Linked DNA regions of Homo sapiens. The protein of the gene in region 1 interacts with the protein of each later gene in a pairwise test. Each region holds a gene or a part of one and is shown in the gene's direction. Other genes may lie near its edges.

Region 1 (7,548 bases):
CCCAATAGAATTTTTTTGTGGAACTCGAGAGGCTGATCCTAAAATTCATACAGTCACTTGAGGGGCCAAGAATAGTGTAACAGGGCTGGCGGGGCTGGTGGCTCACACCTGTAGTCCCAGTACTTGGGAAGTCAAGACTGGAGGATGGTTTGAACCCAGGAGTTCAAGACCAGCCTAGGCAACATAGCAAGATGTTGTCTCAAAATATTAAAAATAAATAAATAAATAAAAAGAAGGTTAAGTATGCACATTTTGTTGTGAATTTCAATTTTATAGTGATTTTTTTTTTTTTTTTGAGACAGGGTCTTGCTCTGTCACCCAGGCTGGAGTGCAGTGGTGCCATCTTGGTTCACTGCAACCTCTGCGTGGGCTCAAGCAATCCTCCCGCCTCACTCTCTGGAGTAGCTGGGACCACAGTTATGTGCCACCACACCTGACTAATTTTTATATTTTTTTTTTGTAGAGACGGGGTTTTTCCATGTTGCCCAGGTTGTTCTCAAACTCATCCACCTGCCTTGGCCTCCGTAAGTGAGATCACAGACATGGGCCACTGTGCCCGGTCTAGTGCGCTTTTTTTTTTTTTTTTTTTTTTAACCAAACAAACGATGAAGTCTCAGGAGTAAAAGTTGATACACAAGTAAATTTTATTGGTAATGTTTTTGTGTGGTCTTTAAGCAGAGGGAAAATTAGTCTGCATTATGGTGTATCCAGACTAAATAACTGATATTAAAATGAAATTATCCTTAGGATTTGCAATCTTAGAGAAAACTTTTTCATTTTTTTTGAGTTACAAATTATCTTCACTTACATTTGAGAACAGTGAGTCACAGAGGGATTAAGTATCTTACTCAAGATCTTCAAGTGTTTGGTTTGAACCCAATCTTTTCACTCTGCAGAACTCAGAGTCACTCTTATTTGGAAACTTTTTAACTGATGTGGATCCTCTAATATGGGCTTCCTATTATTCATTCCGTATTAGTCAGAAGTTTTGCAAGCAGGCAGAATTCATTTTGCCAATTACGGGATTTTCCCTCAGTTGCAGTCAAGGTTCATAAAACTATAACTATTTATCTTTAATTATAAATTTTGTTTTTGAGACAAAGTCTTGCTCTGTTGCTCAGACTGGGATCCAGTGGCACAGTAACAGCCCATTGCAGCTTTGAACTCCTGGGCTCAAGGGATCCTCCGCCTCAGCCTCCCAAGTATCTGGGACTACAAGTGCATGCCATCATCCCTGGCTAATTTTGTTAAAAAAAAAAAATTGTAGAGATAGGGTCTTGCTTCGTTGCCCAGGCTGGTCTCAAACTCCTGGCCTCAAGCAAGCCTTCAGCCTTGGTCTCCCAAAGGGCTGAGATTACAGGTGTCAGCCATTGCACCTGGCCAAAACTGTAACTATATATACACACACACATAACTACATATATATGTGTGTGTGTGTGTGTATGTATGTGTGTGTGTATATATATTTTTATATATAAATAGATATATCTGAAAGGCATCAAAAGAAAAAAGCTGTAACTTTTAGTCTTGATCTTGATAGTGACTTGATTAGGCTATCTGTTTAACATCAAAGATGCAAATTAATGCTTTCTTTGGGTGAGCATATTAAAAATGCAGAAAATATTGGAGTAGTTTTTTATGTTAAATAAATTGTATTCTGTGTATTTAAGGTATACAACATGATTTTATGGGATGCATATAGATGGTTAAAAAAAATTACTACAGTGAAGCAAATTAACGTATCCTTCAACTCAGATAGTTACCCGTTTTCTTTTTGTTTGGTGGCAAGAGGAGCTTAAAATCTCATTTAGCGTGAATCCCAAATACAGCACAATTTTATTACCTATATTTCTCGCGTTGTACATTATATTTCTAGGCTTGTTCATCCTACATATCTGCTACTGTGTAACCTCTGAGCTATGTCCACCCATTTTCTCTCTTGCCCCCCAAGTAATTTCCTAAAGTGTCTCATATAAAAAGGCAGTAGCTTTCAGCTTAAACTTTTTCTCTGTATATATTTAAGTCAATTTCTTTGAGGTATGTTTTTCTCTCCAGAATAGTTAGATGTAGGCATACCACTTTAATGTTGACACTAGTTCACCTAGAACTTATCTTCTGCAAATCTGTCTCTATGTCCATCTCTGTCTCCATCTTTGTCTCTGTCTTTATCTCTGTCTATCTATCTATCCATCCATCCATCCATCCATCTATCTCTCTATCCATCTATCTGTCTATCTAACTAAAGCAAATTCATGCCCTTCTCCTATTTATGGAATCGAGACCATAAACAGAGGTGAGGGAAAGAATTTGGCAGGAATTGCGATGTGTATTACCTGTGGCATAAGGAAACTTTACAGAACTAGGGTCAAAAGTATACTTTCTAGTTCTTTCCCATGGCTTTTCACTTTGATGTAGTCCTTATCAGGCAACTGAGGTTTTATATAAGTCCCCTGATTCTTAGAACATGAAGGTGTAGTATTCAAGTTTGGTCCCTTGAAACCACAATTTTTGTTAAAAAAAAATTAAGAAAATTGTATAATTTCCTCAGCAAATACATATTGATCATCTGTTATACAGCCATGAGAAGTGGTTCTGTTGAACACGTTTATTTTATCAGATCCCAATTCTAAACCAGGCATAGAATGGAAACCATGAAGGTAGGATGAAATAACTTCTGAATGTTTGAAAATAGTGTACTTAAAAATAAATATCAGGTGTTTTTGTTTTGTTTTTTGTTTTTTGTTTTTGAGACAGGGTCTCACTCTGTCACCCAGGCTGGAGTGTGGTGGTGCCATCTCACCTCATTGCAGCCTTGACCTCCCAGGCTCGGGTGATCTCCCACCTCAGCCTCCCAAGTAGCTGGGACTACAGGCACATGCCACCATGCCCAGCTAATTTTTTGTATTTTTTGTAGAGACAGGGTTTCACCATGTTGCCCAAGCTGGTCTAGAACTCCTGGGCTTAAGCGATCTTCCCACCTCAGCCTCCCAAAGTGCCAGGATTACAGGCATGAGCCACCATGCCTGGCTGAAAATACCAGGTTTTTAAGTATCAGCACTGCCTCTTCAATCTTTTCTATTACTATGTTGTGCTCAGTGGTATTTTTTATTGAATTAGAGCAGTGCTGTTCAATGGAACCTTCTTTGAGGATGGAAATCTTTTATGTCTCTGCTGTGTGGGTATGGTATTAGCTGGGTATGGGGCACCTGCCTATAGTCCCAGCTACTCAAGAGGCTGAGGTGGGAGGATCACTTGAGCCCAGGAGGCCGAGTCTGCAGGTTCGTACCACTGCAATTCAGCCTGTGTGACAGAATGAGACTCAGTCTCAGAATAAAATGAAATAAGGAAATAAAAATGTAATTGTTGAAATAAGAAACTAGTGGATGGATTAGACACGAGAAGAAAGAATTAATTGTTTAGGCGATTCTCTCCAAAAAGTAAGTCAGCATGTCACACAGAGAGACATGAGGATGGATGATAGGGCAGAAGTTGGTGGGCTTGGAGGGGAGAGGAAGATCAGAATGAGGTCCAAAATGTGTCTTAGTGAAATCCCAGGAGGAGATATTAAAATTATATTAGAAAGTGAAAGAAATAGAAGTTTTATTTATTTATTTATTTATTTATTTTGAGAAGGAGTCTCGCTCTGTAGCCCAGGCTCGAGTGCAGTGGCACGATCTGAGCTCACTGCAAGCTCCACCTCCTGGGTTCACGCCATTCTCCTGCCTCAGCTTCCCAAGTAGCTGGGACTACAGGCACCCACCACCACGCCTGGCTAATTTTTTGTATTTTTAGTAGAGATGTGGTTTCACCTTTTTAGTCAGGATGGTCTCAATCTCCTGACCTCATGATCCGCCAGCCTCAGGCTCCTAAAGTGCTGGAATTATACGCATAAGCCACTGCACCCGGCCCAAAAGCTTTGTGTTTTTACAAATATTACACATGTTTCTTGTTTAAGAAAAAAAGTCTTCACAATAACGTAGGAGAATAAGAGAAACATTTTTCCAAAAAAGAGAAGTCATTGTGATTATTTTATCTTATTGGAATGTTGGATAATATAGTCTGCTTCAGTAATCATCAAGCATGCTATGGATTTTCCATCTTCATAGGATCTGTATCTCGGTTAAGGTAATACTGGTAATTTTTGTACTCTATGAAAAATATAGGCCAAAATCATAGACCTTGCATAGAAGCTGGATCATGAAGACAGCTCTGGAGGAACACACAGGTACACACACACAGACACACATATATATAAAGTATACACATATATATTTTTTAAAAGCTTTTAAAGCAAAAGCCGGCCCTGCCCCTCTCCCAGAGTTGGCGGCCTCTCCCCTCTCTTAGAGTGGGTGGGGACAGTGGTTGCATGGGCAGCTTTCCTTGTGAGCCAAAGGTCCCTCTGGACACATGATGCCTGGCCACGCCCCCTTTCCCTTTCATCTTTCTCATTAACCAATGGGCTTGGAGCATTAAGGCCACGCCCCTATTCTGCCTTCTACTGCATCCCTGGTTACGCCTCCTCTGGCTCAGTCGCACAGCTACCTGGTAGGTGACTGGAGGTGTTGATCAGTGCTTGGTGGGATTTTGCTGATGTGGCCCCAAGCCCGCCTCCCTCCCCACCCTGCGATGGCAGAAGAAACTCGACAAAGTAAATTGGCAGCAGCCAAGAGAAAGGTAAAAACACACCAGGTCACGGACCCCCAACCCAGCCATAGATCCTCTCCAACGACAAGACTGCTGCCAGAGTCCATACCACTCCCGAGGTTCACCGGACTGGGACCCCCACACCGGTGCCTCTGGGCTACCCCCACCAAAGTTTTGTCAGTCAGCCCCACCCCTTCAGCAAGCAGCCCAGTCTCTGCCCTCACCAATCACCCCAGGGTGACTTTGGGCAGGTGAATCCTGGGGCTCCCCGCTCCTTTACTGGGCCCTCATCTCCTGCCACCCCAAGCTTGACCTCCCAGGGCTTTTTGGGCTCACATCTCCAAGGACCTGGGTCCCACAGCCCCAGACCCCACCCTCACCAGTCATCCCTGGGTGACTTTAGGCTGGTGAATCCTGGGGCTCCCTGCTGCTGACTCTTCCCTTCCCTCCTGCTGCCTCAAGGTGGACCTCCCTAGGCTGTGTGCACTGGTGTCTCCAAGGACCTGGGTCCCAGCTCTGTTTTTCCCTCCCCTATCATGGAGCGGTGACTCGGACATCATGCTGATGTGGTCCCTCCCCCTCACCAGGAAGAGTGGAATGTAGTGATGTCACGGTCCATCCAGTAACTGTCATTACTGCAAGACTGGCCTTTGATCTTATGACCCAGTCCCCTAAGCATTGCCACCCCATTTCTGGTTCCTCTTGTCACAGCACAAATTTCCAGCTGGAAGGGGAATGGAGATTGGGACCTAGGAGCAAGAGGTTTCAGGCTGCCTCACTCCCTTAGCATAAACATTGACAGCGGGAAAAGCCTACACTTCCCCTGTGAGCTCAAAACATTGACAGTACCTCTGGATGGCAACTGGAGAATGGGTTTGACTTGGTTTGGTTTTCTCCCAGGCTTCTACTTTCCAGAGAGATTTTAACAAATTTTTTGTGAGTTCTCCACCTCACATTCTAATTCTCCATGGTTCTGGGACCAGACTGCCCTTCAGCCAGTGGTCTGTGAAGTGAGATTTGCTCATCTTCTCTGGAATAGATCTTGGGAAACTGAACTTGACAGCTTGAATCTTCCTCATATTATGTAAACCTGGGGTACTTTGAGTGCCACAGGATACATATGGGACATCTTTCTGAAGCATCAGTTTCCATTGATTCTCTTGAGATCAAGAGAAAAAACATTAATGTACTTAGGGATGACAGTCACATAGGTTTCTAAGAGTATACCAGACTTCTCTCTGAAATGAGGCTTGGGTTGTCCTCTTTCTGATAAATTCCCAGATTTAACAGAAAGGCTGCCTTCTGCCATGAGGACACATTGATATAAGAGTTTGAGAGGTACTGGTGCACTTCTTCACACTAACAGACGTGTGAGGATGTATGACTAAACCACATGGCATACAGTTCCTGCCTACTTAATGTTTACTTTTCTACCTCTGCCTCTGGTTTTGGTCCCTGGCAGCTGCTGATTCTTGGTAAAACCCCAGAGTTTGGAGTCAGAAGACTGAGTTTCAAAGTTCGTCTGTCGCCTTTTTCTTTTCTTCTTTTTTTTTCTAGCCATGATATCAATCTCTTTGAGTCACTAAATGATTGTGACAACACCTTGTACAGTTGTTGGTATCATTAAATCAGATGGTGTATAAGAGTATTTTATAAAAACTGTAAAGGAGGATGTGGCTGCAGGGGCTGATAGTTCTCATGAGTATTACTGCTCTTGTTTCTGACAGTTAAAAGAATATTGGCAGAGAAACAGCCCTGGTGTTCCAGCAGGAGCCAAGAGGAACAGGAAAACAAATGGCAGCATCCATGAGACAGCCACTTCTGGTGGTTGCCACTCACCTGGAGATGTGAGTCTTGGCTGACTAGGTTCCTGGGGACAGGGGACCCAAGGGGCACTAGAGGGTAATTGTTAAGATTGTGGATGGACTGTTGGGTACCTGTGAAGAATTCTGGGTTTGAATCCTGCCTCTTTGTCTGCTAGGGATATGAATTAGGGCAAGTTGCTAGACCTCATCGGGCCTCTCTTTTCACATCTGTATAATAGAGGTGGTATTGTTTCACTTCCATTTGTGAAGTTTAAATGAGATTTGTTATTGTTGTTTTTATGTTAATCCCTAGTACATGGCCTGCTGTAAACACCCAGAACACCCAGGATATGGTCATTGCTGTTCGATTTTCCTCATCCCCAGTCTCAAGGGGAAGCCAGGACAATGAGAACAGTCACTTGGCACAGGAGTCACTGAAAGGGCCACAGGGTGCTGTGGTGGGGAGATAAGAACCATGAGAGAAGTTGGCACAAAGGAGTTATGGGACAAAGGGTCCAAGATAGGCAGAAAAGAAAATTGTGCCAGTTGATGGGGAAGAAAAGAAGTCAGAGGGCTTAGATACTGAGTGGGACAGAACATCTTCATGTGCACTCTCATCTCTTGTAGTCAGCAACAGGTATCCACGGGGAGAGCCCTACATCATCTGCTACCCTGAAGGATCTGGAGGTAAGAGGCTCTGGGCAGAGGTGCAGTGACCCTGCAGGCCAGCCCTCCAACCTCCTCCTCCAGGTGGGACGGGGTGCCCCTCTGCCAGCTGAGACAGTCCACACACACCCCAGCCCTAATGATTGCTCTCTCTACCTCTCCCCCCACTCCTCCTCCACCTCCTCCTCTCTGCATGCGCCTCAGAGCCCGTGCCAAGAACTAGCAGTAGTCCCAGACTCGAGGTCCGTAAAAGTCAGTCAACTGAAGAACACCATCAAATCTTTGGTAAGAGTCCACTGGGGTCCCCTGATTCCACGCTGCCAATCCTGGGCTCTAGTTTCCCCTTGGGGCCCTGAAGAAAGGGGACGGCGGCCCCTGGTGCCAAGGGCGAATAGGGAGCTGGGGCGCCCAGGCCTCACCTGGAGGGACCCCG
Region 2 (7,214 bases), on another chromosome or scaffold:
CCCCAAATATCTAAGACATGCATCAGTCAATTAAGAAAGTTTATTATACGCAAATCAATAAATGTAATCCAGCATATAAACAGAACTAAAGACAAAAACCACATGATTATCTCAATAGATGCAGAAAAGGCCTTTGACAAAGTTCAACAACCCTTCATGCTAAAACTCGCAATAAATTCGGTATTGATGGGACGTATCTCAAAATAATAAGAGCTATCTATGACAAACCCACAGCCAATATCATAATGAATGGGCAAAAACTGGAAGCATTCCCTTTGAAAACTGGCACAAGACAGGGATGCCCTCTCTCACCACTCCTATTCAACATAGTGTTGGAAGTTCTGGCCAGGGCAATTAGGCAGGAGAAGGAAATAAAGGGTATTCAATTAGGAAAAGAGGAAGTCAAATTGTCCCTGTTTGCAGATGACATGATTGTATATCCAGAAAACCCCATTGTCTCAGCCCAAAATCTCCTTAAGCTGATAAGCAACTTCAGCAAAGTCTCAAGATACAAAATCAATGTACAAAAATCACAAGCATTCTTATACACCGATAACAGACAAACGGAGAGCCAAATCATGAGTGAACTCCCATTCACAATTGCTTCAAAGAGAATAAAATACTTAGGAATCCAACTTACAAGGGACGTGAAGGACCTCTTCAAGGAGAACTACAAACCACTGCTCAATGAAACAAAAGAGGATACAAACAAATGGAAGAACATTCCATGCTCATGGGTAGGAAGAATCAATATCGTGAAAATGGCCATACTGCCCAAGGTAATTTATACATTCAATGCCATCCCCATCAAGCTACCAATGACTTTCTTCACAGAATTGGAAAAAAACTACTTTAAAGTTCATATGGAACCAAAAAAGAGCCCGCATTGCCAAGTCAATCCTAAGCCAAAAGAACAAAGCTGGAGGCATCACGCTACCTGACTTCAAACTATACTACAAGGCTACAGTAACCAAAACAGCATGGTACTGGTACCAAAACAGAGATATAGATCAATGGAACAGAACAGAGCCCTCAAAAATAACGCCGCACATCTACAACTATCTGATCTTTGACAAACCTGAGAAAAACAAGCAATGGGGAAAGGATTCCCTATTTAATAAATGGTGCTGGGAAAACTGGCTAGCCATATGGAGAAAGCTGAAACTGGATCCCTTCCTTACACCTTACACAAAAATTAATTCAAGATGGATTAAAGACTTAAACGTTAGACCTAAAACCATAAAAACCCTAGAAGAAAACCTAGGCATTACCATTCAGGACATAGGCATGGGCAAGGACTTCATGTCTAAAACACCAAAAGCAATGGCAACTAAAGCCAAAATTGACAAATGGGATCTAATTAAACTAAAGAGCTTCTGCACAGCAAAAGAAACTACCATCAGAGTGAACAGGCAACCTACAAAATGGGAGAAAATTTTCGCAACCTACTCATCTGACAAAGGGCTAATATCCAGAATCTACAATGAACTCAAACACATTTATGAGAAAAAAACAAACAACCCCATCAAAAAGTGGGAGAAGGATATGAACAGACACTTCTCAAAAGAAGACATTTATGCAGCCAAAAGACACATGAAAAAATGCTCACCATCACTGGCCATCAGAGAAATGCAAATCAAAACCACAATGAGATACCATCTCACACCAGCTAGAATGGCAATCATTAAAAAGTCAGGAAACAACAGGTGCTGGAGAGGATGTGGAGAAATAGGAACACTTTTACACTGTTGGTGGGACTGTAAACTAGTTCAACCATTGTGAAAGTCAGTGTGGCGATTCCTCAGGGATCTAGAACTAGAAATACCATTTCACCCAGCCATCCCATTACTGGGTATATACCCAAAGGACTATAAATCATGCTGCTATAAAGACACATGCACACGTATGTTTATTGCGGCACTATTCACAATAGCAAAGACTTGGAACCAACCCAAATGTCCAACAATGATAGACAGGATTAAGAAAATGTGGCACATATACACCATGGAATACTATGCAGCCATAAAAAATGATGAGTTCATGTCCTTTGTAGGGACATGGATGAAATTGGAAATCATCATTCTCAGTAAACTATCGCAAGGACAAAAAACTAAACACCGCATGTTCTCACTCATAGATGGGAATTGAAAATGAGAACACATGGACACGGGAAGGGGAACATCACACTCTGGGGACTGTTGTGGGGTGGGGGGAGGGGGGAGGCATAGCATTAGGAGATATACCTAATGCTAAATGACGAGTTAATGGGTGTAGCACACCAGAATGGCACATGTATACATATGTAACTAACCAGCACATTGTGCACATGTACCCTAAAACTTAAAGTATAATAATAATAAAAAAAATGAAAGAAATGTGAAAAAAAAAAAGAAAGTTTATTTTGCCAAGGTTAAGGACACACACCCATGACATGGCCTCAGGAGGTCCTGATGACATGTGCCCAAGGTGGTTGGGGTACAGCTTAGTTTTATACATTTTAGGGAGACATGGGACATCAATCAATATATGTAAGATGTACATTGGTTTGGTCCAGACAGGCCAGACAACTTGAAGCAGGGCAGGGGCTTTCAGTTAATAGGTAGATAAGAGACAAACAGTTGCATTCTTTTGAGTTTCTGATTGGCCTTTCCAAAGGAGGCAGTCAGAGATGCATCTATCTCAGTGAGCAGATGGGTGGCTCCGAGTTCTGTCATTTGTCCACAAGGAATTTCCTTGTGAGGGAGGTAGGTAGCTTTTTAATCTTAGTAGCTATCTTTTTTAGGAATAGAATGGGAGGCAGGTTTGCCTGATGCAGTTCCCAGCTTGACTGTCCCCTTTGGTTTAGTGATTATGGGGTCCCAAGATTTATTTTCCTTTCACACAAGCCCCAAAGTTGGGTTTTTACAAGAGCAACCAAAATATTAAGAACCTGAGAAAAGTCAAAACAAAACATATACTTACGTTTCTCTGAATCCTTAATTCTGCTGTAGTCAAAACTGTGATGTGTCCCTTTACCTTGAAAATGGAAGCCAAATCCATGGGATTTATGTAAGCTGGATTTCTGAAAAGTTTATTGATGTTTGGGAATGGGACAACAAGCTAGGAAATTAACGTATCTCTCCTCATTCTGTGTTGAGTGGATGTTAAGGCAAATTTACCAATATGCGCCAAGCTCTGCCCAGGGCGTTAGGGCATTAAGGCCACAGAGCTAAGACCCCAAAGAGCCTAGGATCCAGTGGAAGGGCTCAGAGGCTCTGGACAGCGCCTTGCACCACACACTGAACATGGGTCTGCTGGGGCCTCAGGACGGAGCAGCCAGGCTCCACCTTGGGGTGTGGGGAGGCCGGTTTGGTGAAAAGACACCCAGACCCTTCTGACTGTCATCCAAGGAAGAAGGAAAACTACTCTTTAAAAAGGCAGAAAGGGCCAGGCGCACGGCTCATGCCTGTAATCTCTGCACTTTGGGAGGCCCGAAGTGGAAGGATCACTTGAGGCCAGAAGATCAAGGCTGCAGTGAGCCATGATCCCACCACTGGACTCCAGCCTGGGCGACAGACCGAGACCCTGCCTCAATAAAAAAAAAAAACTTTTTAAATAATAATAAGTAAATAAGGCCCGGCACGGTGGCTTACGCCTGTAATCCCAGCACTTTGGGAGGCCGAGGTGGATGGATCACGAGGTCAGGAGATCGAGACCATCCTGGCTAACACGGTGAAACCCCGTCTCTACTAAAAATACAAAAAATTAGCCGGGTGCGGTGGCAGGCGCCTGTAGTCCCAGCTACTCGCGAGGCTGAGGCAGGAGAATGGTGTGAACCCCGGAGGTGGAGTTTGCAGTGAGCCGAGATCGTGCCACTGCACTCCAGCCTGGGCGATAGAGCCAGACTCTGTCTCCAAAAAAAAAAAAAAAAAAAGTAAATAAAACGGCTGAGGGGACTCAGGTCCCCCTGCGTGAAAGGAAGGGGCTTTAAGCGTCCACCTGGGGTAGCTGCATTATCACGTAGGATCCTCCTCTTCTAGTGTGGAAGGCCCTTTTTAATTTTCATTTATATTTTATTTATTTATTTTGCGACGGAGTCTCACTCTGATGCACAGGCTGGAGAGCAGTGGCGCGATATGGGCTCACTGCAACCTCCGCCTCCCGTTTTCAAACGATTGTCTCAGCCTCCCAAGCAGCTGGGGTTACACGCGTGCAACACGACGCCCGGCTAATTTTTGTATTTTTGGTAGAGACGGGGTCTCGCCATGTCGGCCAGGCTGGTCTCGAATTCCTGACCTCAAGCCATCCACCCACCTCGCCTCCCAACGTGCTGAGATTACAGGCGTGAGCCACCGCGCCTGGGAAGTGCGGGAGGCCTTTTTAAAAAATGTAAACTCGCGTGCTCAAGAAGCCCTATCGGAGGGAAACACCCAGAAGAGGCCACCCTCCAAACACAGGGTAAAACAGGGGTGACGCACAGAGGTAACGGGAAAGCAGGAACGAGCGAGAGCGTGCGGTCCCGTACCTGCGCGTGCCTGCGTGCGCGTCCGTGCGGCCGCGACGCCGCCGCCGGTGCCTCTCTTTCTAGACGTGCGCGCGCCCGCAGCTCGCCCCCCTGACCGTAAAGAGGCCCGGCTGTGTCGTGAAAGGGGCCGCAACGCGCAGAGCGCTGGTTGACGGCCGGGACTCCATTTTGTTCGCCGTTACTCTGCGCGTAAGTCGCTTGTCCGTGGCTTCTCTGAGAAGAAAAGTTGAAAAAGGGTAAAAGTTTTCAGGAATATTCGGGCTCTCTATTGCTAAGCATAGCGAGTGTCGGTTTTCTCTCTCCAACAGACATCGCTATTGCGGTTCCGAGGCAGTGGGAAGAGATGCGGCCCCTGGACATCGTCGAGCTGGCGGAACCGGAGGAAGTGGAGGTGCTGGAGCCCGAGGAGGATTTCGAGCAGTTTCTGCTCCCGGTCATCAACGAGATGCGCGAGGACATCGCGTCGCTGACGCGCGAGCACGGGCGGGCGTACCTGCGGAACCGGAGCAAGCTGTGGGAGATGGACAATATGCTCATCCAGATCAAAACGCAGGTGGAGGCCTCGGAGGAGAGCGCCCTCAACCACCTCCAGAACCCGGGCGACGCGGCCGAGGGCCGGGCGGCCAAGAGGTGCGAGAAGGCCGAGGAGAAGGCCAAGGAGATTGCGAAGATGGCAGAGATGCTGGTGGAGCTGGTCCGGCGGATAGAGAAGAGCGAGTCGTCGTGAGCGCGGTCGGCGGTAAGTCGGGCACCCGCGCCAGGCCGAGGAGCGGCCCCAGCTTGGCCGCTCTTCGAGAGCGATGATTTCATCGAGATGCACCGGAATCGGGGGTGGGGCGGGAGAATAAAGGCGTGCTCGGGTCAGGGCCGATCTGGGCCCCGTCTTCGTGTTTTGTTTTTTGACGGTGGCGGCGTGGGATAATCAGAGTGGCCGGGTTTGGGCGTGATGCGTGTTCAGTGGAAGGGTCATAAATCTCAGAGTCGCCAAGGAAACAGAAACGGACAAGGTCCCGGGCCGTCCAGCAAGCGGGGGTGGAAATAGAGGATTTTCGGGGAAGACGTTGGACAAGTCAACGTTGCTAGAGACTGGAGTGAGTCAGGTGGTGGCCAGAAGAGGTGGCGTCCTGCACAGTGGCGTTCGTGAGGGTTTGGGGGTCGTTGTGCCTGGGATTAACCTCTCGATGATGAATTTCTTCCCATTGTGCTTTAGGTTTCCAGCCAATGGATTCTGGTCAACTGGTGGAGATTGGCTGACACCCTGGAGAAGCCGAAACCAGAGAGCCTTTTGTTTTCTCTTTTTTCCTGTCTATGCTCTGTCTCACTTAACACTACGTTTTCTGCTATGGTCTGTGGTTGATGACCTCAATATGAGTTTCGATTGTTAACGTGTTTTTGTTTGGGAAGTAATTTTGTTTGAAAATGCTCTCACATACAGGAATTAGGGCCTAGATTGTAAGCTCTTGCAGCAGTCACATTTGTTCCCGGGCTTTGGTGGTTATTTCTAAATTTTTGAGGTGCTTTGCTATTTCTTGTGTGACCTGATAGCTCCCTGGAACTTTGGGTCTGTGTGTGACACATGAGACTCACAGTTGGAGTTCTCCAGCTCTGGAGGTGCTGAAGGAGCTGCATTAATTCTGGAAGACGACTCCATGCAGCAACTACTGAAGAAAGGACCAGACTTCAACGGGGAGTGTGGATGGGCCGACCTGGCTGGGACTCGTGAATCTGGAGAAGAGCTGGAGAATGGATAGTATTGTCTGTATTTGGAGACTTTAATTTCTGTGTGAGACCAAAGGAGGAGAGATGTGTTTTGTTCAAAATTTAAATTTGTTGTGGTACACTATCTTATGTAACCTGTCTGGTGAGTTTGTTTGGACAACCTAACTCAGCTTTATTTGACATGGAACCTAAAATAGAAGATAAGATCTTGATATTCTGTACAAGTTGATGTAATACCCTGATGCGTTTTAGAGGACTTGGCATAAAATGAAAGATTGGCAAAGGCCCTTGAGGGGCTTGGGGATGACAGTATGGAACTGTCTGCATTGGACCCTAAACTGGACTAGAAGAGGCATCTTCAAGGTTCATACGTTGTCCAGCTGTAAGTTCATTTGAGTAGCAGACCTAACAAATATTTGAGGTCAGAACCCTACCATGTTAAAACAAACAAAAACTTACCATGTTAATAAAAGTATTCATTTGCTTGAAAAGACGAAAGACCTAAAAGGTTATTGAGAAATGTTAGTCCTTTAAGAATGAAATCTGCTGTCTCCCAGATGGTTCTCACTGTCAAATGGAGGGTGAACATCTTAACGGTTTCTGAGGCTCTTAGTCTCTAATCAAAGGGAAGCTTTCTCTCTCTGCTGTTGGGAACCGGGTGAGGAAGAAACACACTTGGTTCTTAGTGTGGGAAGAAACCACATGTAATCCTGTGGTCCAGGCCTCTGCCTTCAGAGAGCCAAAGCACCTTCAGTCTTTCCAATTGGAACATTGTTTTCTAGGCCTTGCACTGGGAATATAGCGATTACAGTTGCAGGGTGAGGGATGACATAGAGGAGATGTGATACCCCACCCTCCTTCCAGATTGAAGCCTTTCTGCCTCAGCTGCTAGAAGTGTTGCTGACAAACACCCTTCAGCTGGTTAGCCCTCTGGGCAGTGCCTTTTCAGAGGAGAGCTGCGTTAGCCAAAGTCATGCCCTTTTCCCTGGGT
Region 3 (7,406 bases), about 63 Mb from region 1:
ATTTATTCAGCCATTCCTCTATGGCTGGGCATTCAGGCAAGTTCCAAGTTTTTCTTACTACAAAAAAGGCTGAAATAAACATACACATGTCTACTTGTGCACGTGGACAAGGTTTCTCTGAGAGAAACAGCAAGAAGTAAACATATGGGATCACAAGATACGCTCATTTGAAATTGAATAGATATGCTAAAGTACTCTCGAAAAGAGCTGTACCAATTTATACCCCTCCAGCAGTCATCAGAGAGCCCTTGGCCCCCAGCCTCACCACTGATGTGTCTGCCTCTCTCCTTCTCGAAAAGTGTACAAACTTTTAAATATCTGCCAGACAGACCTCCAAATCAACAGTAATGTGCTGTCATCTTAATTTGCTTTTCCCTGGCCACAGGCAAGGTTCACTTGCCACCGGGATCTCGTCTGGAGAACTGTGTCTACACCCCTGGCCCAGACCCCTTCACCACCAGTCAATGCTTCCACCTCTCTGGGTCACTCACATACCTTCTCCTGAATCTGGCCCCCGATGTTCCGCAAGGCCTCCTGGAAAACTTTGTTCTTGGGCTCCAAGCTCACACATCTCTGCAGGTCAAGGACAGCCTGGTCCAGGCGGCCCAGCTTCTCTAGGGCTTGGCTCCGCCGGTAGAGTGCTTTGACATCCCCACCATCCTTTTCAATGGCTGAGCACAAACAGGAGCGCTGTCAGCACCCATGAGGCCACTGTCTCCAGGCAAGAGCAGTAGGGAAAGATCTCGAGGAAAGGCCAGAAGAAGGTGGGGGGGACGAATGTGGGGCTCGGTGCTTCAGCCTCAGAAAAGGTGAGGGTAGCTGCAGAAAAGGAAAGGCCCGAGGCAGTGGGAAAGAAAGAAGGCAGATGTGTCTCTGGGGCCAAAGGAGGAGAATGTGACGGTGCAGCGGTCCCAGAGTCCTTGCCCACCACAGAAGCCCTACAGCTCCACACCAGGGCCCACCATTCCCCTACCTTTGGATGCCTCTGTTTCTGCTTTGTCGTAATCTTCCTGTAAGAGAAAGACAGGAGCCTGAAGGAATGGTCATCTCCCTCTCGGGGCACTAACCAGGCAGCAGGGGTACTCTCGCTCTCCAAGGTCACCCGATCCCCCACCACCCTGAGGTGCAAAAAACATCTGGCAAGCGGGGATGGCCTGGGAGCGTGAATGTCCAGCTGGGGCCCAAGCATCAGCTTAGATGGGCGAACCGGGGCCCGGGCGGGCGAGGGGAAGAGCGCCAGGCTCCCTCACCAGCTTGAGGTGGCAGGCGGCCCGGTTCCGGTGCAGAACGGCCTGGTCCTGGGGCGTCGCGTCCAGACCCAGGGCCTGAGTGTAGGCCGCCAGGGCGCCCCCGTAGTCTCCACATTTGAACAGCTCATTGCCCTCCTTCCGCAGCTGCTCCACTGAGCTGGCCTGTAGAGAGAAAGGGGGCGGAAACGTCGGAGGGGGTTCGGGGCAGAGCCCGGGAGCTAAGGGGAGAGGAGAGGAGGGATCGGGGCGAGCCTCATGGATGGGGAGAAGGAGGCCAGGGATGGTCAGGGCGGGTGCGAAGGGGTGATGGCGCGGGGGTTGGGTACGCACCCCGGGGGTGGCCGGCCGGGGCTCGGGGGTCCCTGGACCACTCACAGTCATCGCGGAGAGGTTGTCTCGTGCCCGCGCAGGCGCAGTCTCTGGGGCGGGGCGAGTCTGGGTTCGGGACGCCACCGGCAGCTGCCCCGCCCCACTCTTGCGTCGGAGGTGGGGTCAGAGAGGGGCAGGGCTAAGGAGGGAGCGCGCCCGGGCAGGGGCGGGGCGCTTGGCTCTGGATCGCAGGTGCAGGCAAGCTCCGGGCGCACCTAAGCTGTCCCCGCAGAGACCTGCAGGGAGCTCGCGGCGGAGGACCCAGAGGGAGGCCTGCGGTGGCTCCAGCCCAGACTCCGGCCCCGACCGCAGCAGAAGTGCACGAGGTCTACGGTCATCAGGGTCACAACCAGTAGGTTGTAGAGGCCCAGCACTAGGAGCGGGCCTGGGCCCCTGCGGGAGAGAAAAAGTATCTGGATCCCGGCCCCGACCGCGCTCTCGCTGCTGCGCTCTGTGGGGGGTACAGAATCCCTGGGAGTCCGGAGAAAGCTCAGGACTCCCTCCCCAAATAAGTGTCGTCTTACATACACACATTTGCATACGAATTTAGGAGCTCATCCTAGAGCCACCCATGGGCAGATTCAGGATGGCTCCCCATTACCAGCTTGCACAGCCCCCTGAACTTCTCCTTTGTAATTGTAATCATGATCTACATGATTTTCTGTTGCGGTCTGTCCCTTCACTAGTCTGTAAGTTACAAGCCTACCACCCCATAATTTAGGAACAGAGCCCCAGATACTGGAACACCCTGTCGATGTTCCAGTGGCTCTGGGGTTGGAGATCTCACCTGAGGATGGGCGGGGGCGGAAGAGCGGACAGATTGACTTGGTACAGGGCCTCAAATTCAGCCCGGGTGCAGCAGGAGCCCCCTGCAGCCTGCAGGTGGCAGCAGTAGGCTTCCTCTGGAGAATCAGACAGACGAGGGCAAAAGAAACCAGGGTAGTGACGGCCATGGACATCCCGGGTGGTCTGGCACAAGTGAGGGTGGTGGACCAGAGCTGAAGAGAGAGGTGGGGGTGCTAGAGACAAGCAGGAGGGGCCTTTCCACAGCTCACTCCACCCCTACTGGAGAGTAAAAGAGATCAGCCCCTACCAGAAGAAAAGATGCCCTTCCACCCATCCCCATCAGTTCCAGTTCCCAGGAATAGCCCATAGCACCAGAGGCAGGTGGGCCACAGGGGTAAGTGCTGTACCTGAGAGAGAGGTTGGCTGGACAAGGGTCACCCAGCTGAAGAGCAGCAGTAGCCCCACAGATAGGCCTGTCAGCAAGGGGCCTGACCTTCTCTGGATGCCCATGAGAGTTCACTACCACCTCTGTCCTGGTCCTGGGAACCCCAACATCTCTCTTTCTAGGCCGTGACTGCAGACAATAAGGAAATAAAAGTCAAAGCCCCAAGGCCCTTGGGCACCATTAATACGAGCCTGAAGCTTCTCTATCACAGGCTTTTAGAGAGAGATGACAGGGACTGGGTTTCTGTCTCCTGTTGGAAAACGTGGGGCCTGCATTGCCAAACTGCTGAAGGAGAGAAGGCTCAAAGGACTAGAGGACAGAATGAGGGATGAGAGAGCAGCTGAGCCATTAGTATGAAGAACAAACAAGCATTTACAGCCAAATATGTTTCTACCCATTCTCCAACTTCCAGGCTGCCATGGAAGCTCTGGGAATTCTGACCCTCCTATTTCAGGTCCCAGAGACCTCAGTTCCAGCATGTGGGGCTTCCCTCCCTAACCTCTGCTACGTGGCAACCACCAAGACTAGCTGAAAACCAAGGGTGACTCCTTTCATTAGCCTTTCCCCTGAGCCTTATCTGCCCCAGCTACCAGCCAGAACACAAAAGCTACATGTCTGATTAGAGTATACTTAGCTAATAGGGAACCCCCTCTCACAGAGAAGTTCTATGGGGATCACCAGGTCTCTCTTACCCCTCAGCTGCCCCTAAGGCAGGGAATTTCTCCAGAAGGCCACCAGCCAGCAGAATTAAGTGTTATTCCAGTGCCTACCCAGGCCTGACAACATCATGCTCCCAGGACAGCAGTGACAACACTCATCACCCCAGGGGCCCACAGAAGATGCCTAGAGACTGAAATAGGAGCTCTCATAGCATAAGAAGACAAGGCAAATTTCATCTGCAACACTGAGGACAAACAAAGGCAGTTCCTGCAGAAACGTCACAGCTACCTGGGAGCCTAAGTCTGAAGCAATTAGGCAGGGCTCCCAGGGAAGGCTCTGATTTTTCAGGTCAGGCCCTAGGGTCTCCTGGAGGGTCCAAAGGTAGACTCCCCTGCCCACAGAACCTGGCCCATCCCTACAGGGAGAACTATTTTTAGAACACTTGGAGAATTTTCAGAGCTTTTACAGGTTGAAGATGGTTCTTGGGGGGAGCTTCTGGGAGAAGCTGTCTCTGACTCTGAGGGTGTGGGGATTGTTCTTTCTTCCCGCTCCCATAGTCCCCTGAGCCTTGGCCACCCTGGATTCAGAGCACTGTGAGGCCACTGCCTTATTTCTTGTCTGTCTTCCTCTTTTCCACAGACTGTGGGCTCCCAAAGAGCCAGGCTTATGTTCTTCTTGCACCCCCAACAGAGCACACTGAGCTGGGGGCTGCGATGCTGAAGGCAGCTGTCCACATCACTTGCTCTCTGCGCGGGCCGGTCAGCTCCAGAGGAATTCATCTGGGGCAGGCCCAACTCGGCCCGCTGAATTAGCCTCCACGATCCCCGGGCCTCCCCGGCGCCAGGGGGCGCTGTAAACGTTCCGTCCCTGCCCCTGCGGCCGCAGTCGTCGGCCCCATCCGCGCGATGGGCTCTGAGGCGGCGCAGCTGCTGGAGGCTGCCGACTTCGCGGCTCGCAAGCACCGGCAGCAGCGGCGGAAGGACCCCGAGGGGACCCCCTACATCAACCACCCCATCGGTGGGCGCGTCGGCCGCGGAGCGCCGGCTGCGGCACCTGGGTGGTGGGGACTGGGAAGGAAACGTGGGGGGCGTGCACCTCATTGAGCACCTGTTTTGTCCCAAGCTTAGTGCGATATACCGTTTAAGCCTCATAACAATTGGAACGGTAGGCATGATCGTTCCCTTTGTCGGTTGGCTCCCAGAGGGTAAGGTACTTGACCAAGGTCACCCAGCTAGTCAGAGTCCACAAGGGGCCACATCTGGCTCTCCAAAACCCACAACACACCGCCTTGGGACTACCTCCGACCTGACTTCCTGCTTTGCCCCTCCCCGTCAGGTGTGGCACGGATCCTGACCCACGAGGCGGGAATCACTGACATTGTGGTGTTACAGGTAACTTTCCCCCTTCTCTGCCAGGAGCCTGGGATGGGGATTAGGGGCCCCATTCAGCAATGGGCAACCCTTGGCTGACATCTCAGGGCTGAGTGGGAACTTGTCCCCAGGCGGCCCTGCTCCATGACACGGTGGAGGACACAGACACCACCCTGGATGAGGTGGAGCTACACTTTGGGGCACAAGTGCGGCGCCTGGTGGAGGAGGTAACAGATGACAAGACTCTGCCCAAGCTGGAGAGAAAGAGGCTGCAGGTGGAGCAAGCGCCCCACAGTAGCCCCGGGGCCAAACTGGTGAAGCTGGCAGACAAGCTGTACAATCTGAGGGACCTGAATCGCTGCACCCCAGAGGGTACGCTTTCGTATGGGCTGTAAGGGAAAAGGGAGGGGGATGCCGCCTTCTGAAGACACATGTTGGTCAGTTCCCCTGAAAAACCCTGGGCATTCTTAATTCCCAAATTAATCCTACTGGACCACTCTTTGATCTTCTTTCATACAGTAAAAATACAATAGCTGGGCCAAGGGGAAGTTTTCAGGACAGCTCATTCCATCAGGAACTCATGGCCTTGAACCAAGCTTGCCAGGAAGTGGGGAAAAGGCAGTGCTTTCCTTGACATCACGCTAGCAAGTTTCTGTCGACTCTTATGCAGGATGGTCAGAACATCGAGTCCAGGAATACTTCGAGTGGGCAGCGCAGGTGGTGAAGGGGCTTCAGGGAACAAACCGGCAACTGGAAGAGGCTCTAAAGCATCTGTTCAAGCAGCGGGGGCTGACAATCTGATCAGTGCTTGAAGCTATCCAGAGGCACAACTCCAGCCTCGTTCAGGCCGGACAGGATTCATACGCCATCTTTTCTGTGTCTCCTGAGCTCCCTCCATCCTTCCCAGATATTAGAGGCCAAAAAAAGACTTGCATTTTTTCTCAGTCTGAAGGTCTCCTGCTAACTAAGCTGAGCCCCGCGTGGTGGGAATCAGATGTACCCATCCATTTCTGATGCACTCACCGCCTCTCCCCAAGTCTTGGGTCTGTTTGCTATTTTGCATGGTGGGATCTCTGGCCCCTCAGGGACTTGAGATTATTTAAGTACTAGTTCCTAACACGTTCTGGAAAATAAAAATAACTCTGGGTTAAGGTTTAAGCTGCTGCTGCTCCTTCTCCAGCCTCCGACTGGTGGGCTGCATATCTTTCCTTCAGCAAAGCAGGACTAATTGTGTGTCCCGGAGTCACCTCCCTCAGGTTGCGGGCCTCAACCCCTCCGAACCTGGCTTCCTTGTCAGTGACATGGGTTGTGTAATTATCAGGTTAGACTGTGACGTGCCTGATGGAGCCTGACACATAGGTGCTCAAGAAATGGTAGCAGCCTTTCCCGTTAAGAAAGTTGGAAGGGGGCCAGGCGCGGTGTCTCTCGCCTGTAATCCCAGCACTCTGGGAGACCGAGGCGGGCGGATCACTTGAGGTCAGGAGTTCAAGACCAGCCTGGCCAGCATGGCGAGGCCCCGTCTCTACTAAAAATACAAAAAAAAATTAGCCGGGCGCAGTGGCTCGCGCCTGTAATCCCAGCTACTCAGGAGGCTGAGGCAGGAGACTCGCTTGAACCCGGGAGGCGGAGTTTGTACTGAGCCGAGATCGCGCCACTGCACTCCAGCTTGGGTGACACAGCGAGACTCCGTCTCAAAAATGAAAAAAGAAAAGACGTATCGGAAGGGAGTGCCGCCCGCTTACTGACAACCACTGCTGGGCACCGGAGAGACCCCAGCAGCAACATGATTGGGCCGGTGGGGGATTCCGGTTCCCCAGTACCTCAAGCCGCGCGGGAAACTCGGTGACTCGCAATCCCCTCGCCCTTCCGCATTGCGGGTTACTTCGGTTGTTAAGTGACAGGGACTTCCGGGAAGGCCCGGAAGTGGCCCGGGGCTGTCCGACCCCGGGAGCCCGGCGGTCGGCGTAGGGGAGGCGGTGGAACTTTGCTCGGTGGCCATGGGGAGGGATTGCCCGGTGGTGGTTTTTCAGTCGTTGCTGAGCAGCTGAGGTTTATTTTTATGTATTTTATTCTGCATCCAGTCATCCATTAAAGCCAAAGTTTATTAAGTTGTCTGGAAAAGCGATCATCTTGGGTACGAGGAAATTGTTAGGTCAAAGCTGTTCGACTACGATAGTTGTTTGCCCAAGTGAAGGCCCCAGCGGAGGGCTCTGCGAAAAAGTAGGTGAAAGGCAACCAAAAAAGCCGAATTAAAAGAAAACAAATGAACAAAGTTCAGAGTAATCCCCAGGGTATGGTACATTTTGGAGAACTTTGAACTTAATTTTTTTAAATAGTTTTGCGGGAGTAAGATAACGAGATTTTTTTAAGAAAAGATGACTTTGTTGTAGTCCACTTTATATATTTTGTTGCCTGTGTTTTTAGTGTCATATCTAAGAAATCGTTGCCAAATCTAATGCCATGAAGCTTTTCCTGTTTTCTTCTAGGAGCTTTCGTTTTAGCTTTTTTTTTTGAGACGGAGTTTCA

What was found. The genes of interacting proteins can lie anywhere in the genome.
Region 2: the proteins of GOLGA8F (region 1) and MRFAP1 interact in binary tests that used the Homo sapiens proteins (3 or more experiments, as listed by UniProt).
Region 3: the proteins of GOLGA8F (region 1) and HDDC3 interact in binary tests that used the Homo sapiens proteins (3 or more experiments, as listed by UniProt).

Annotation. Positions count from the first base shown.
Region 1 is NC_000015.10:28,374,136-28,381,683, forward strand, and holds the start of GOLGA8F (golgin subfamily A member 8F), read left to right. Parts: upstream 1-4,528; 5' UTR 4,529-4,626; coding exon 4,627-4,674; intron 4,675-6,371; coding exon 6,372-6,491; intron 6,492-7,076; coding exon 7,077-7,136; intron 7,137-7,319; coding exon 7,320-7,400; intron 7,401-7,548.
Region 2 is NC_000004.12:6,636,016-6,643,229, forward strand, and holds MRFAP1 (MORF4 family-associated protein 1), read left to right. Parts: upstream 1-4,669; 5' UTR 4,670-4,847; coding exon 4,848-5,231; 3' UTR 5,232-5,243; intron 5,244-5,714; 3' UTR 5,715-6,714; downstream 6,715-7,214.
Region 3 is NC_000015.10:90,929,550-90,936,955, reverse strand, and holds HDDC3 (guanosine-3',5'-bis(diphosphate) 3'-pyrophosphohydrolase MESH1), read left to right. Parts: upstream 1-4,406; 5' UTR 4,407-4,415; coding exon 4,416-4,527; exon of another isoform or gene 4,528-4,570; intron 4,571-4,845; coding exon 4,846-4,901; intron 4,902-5,011; coding exon 5,012-5,252; intron 5,253-5,399; coding exon of another isoform or gene 5,400-5,413; exon of another isoform or gene 5,414-5,550; coding exon 5,551-5,681; 3' UTR 5,682-6,988; downstream 6,989-7,406. Other genes in the region: UNC45A (protein unc-45 homolog A), read right to left, coding at 496-671, 974-1,010, 1,251-1,412, 1,581-1,631. UniProt on the Homo sapiens protein: ppGpp hydrolyzing enzyme involved in starvation response.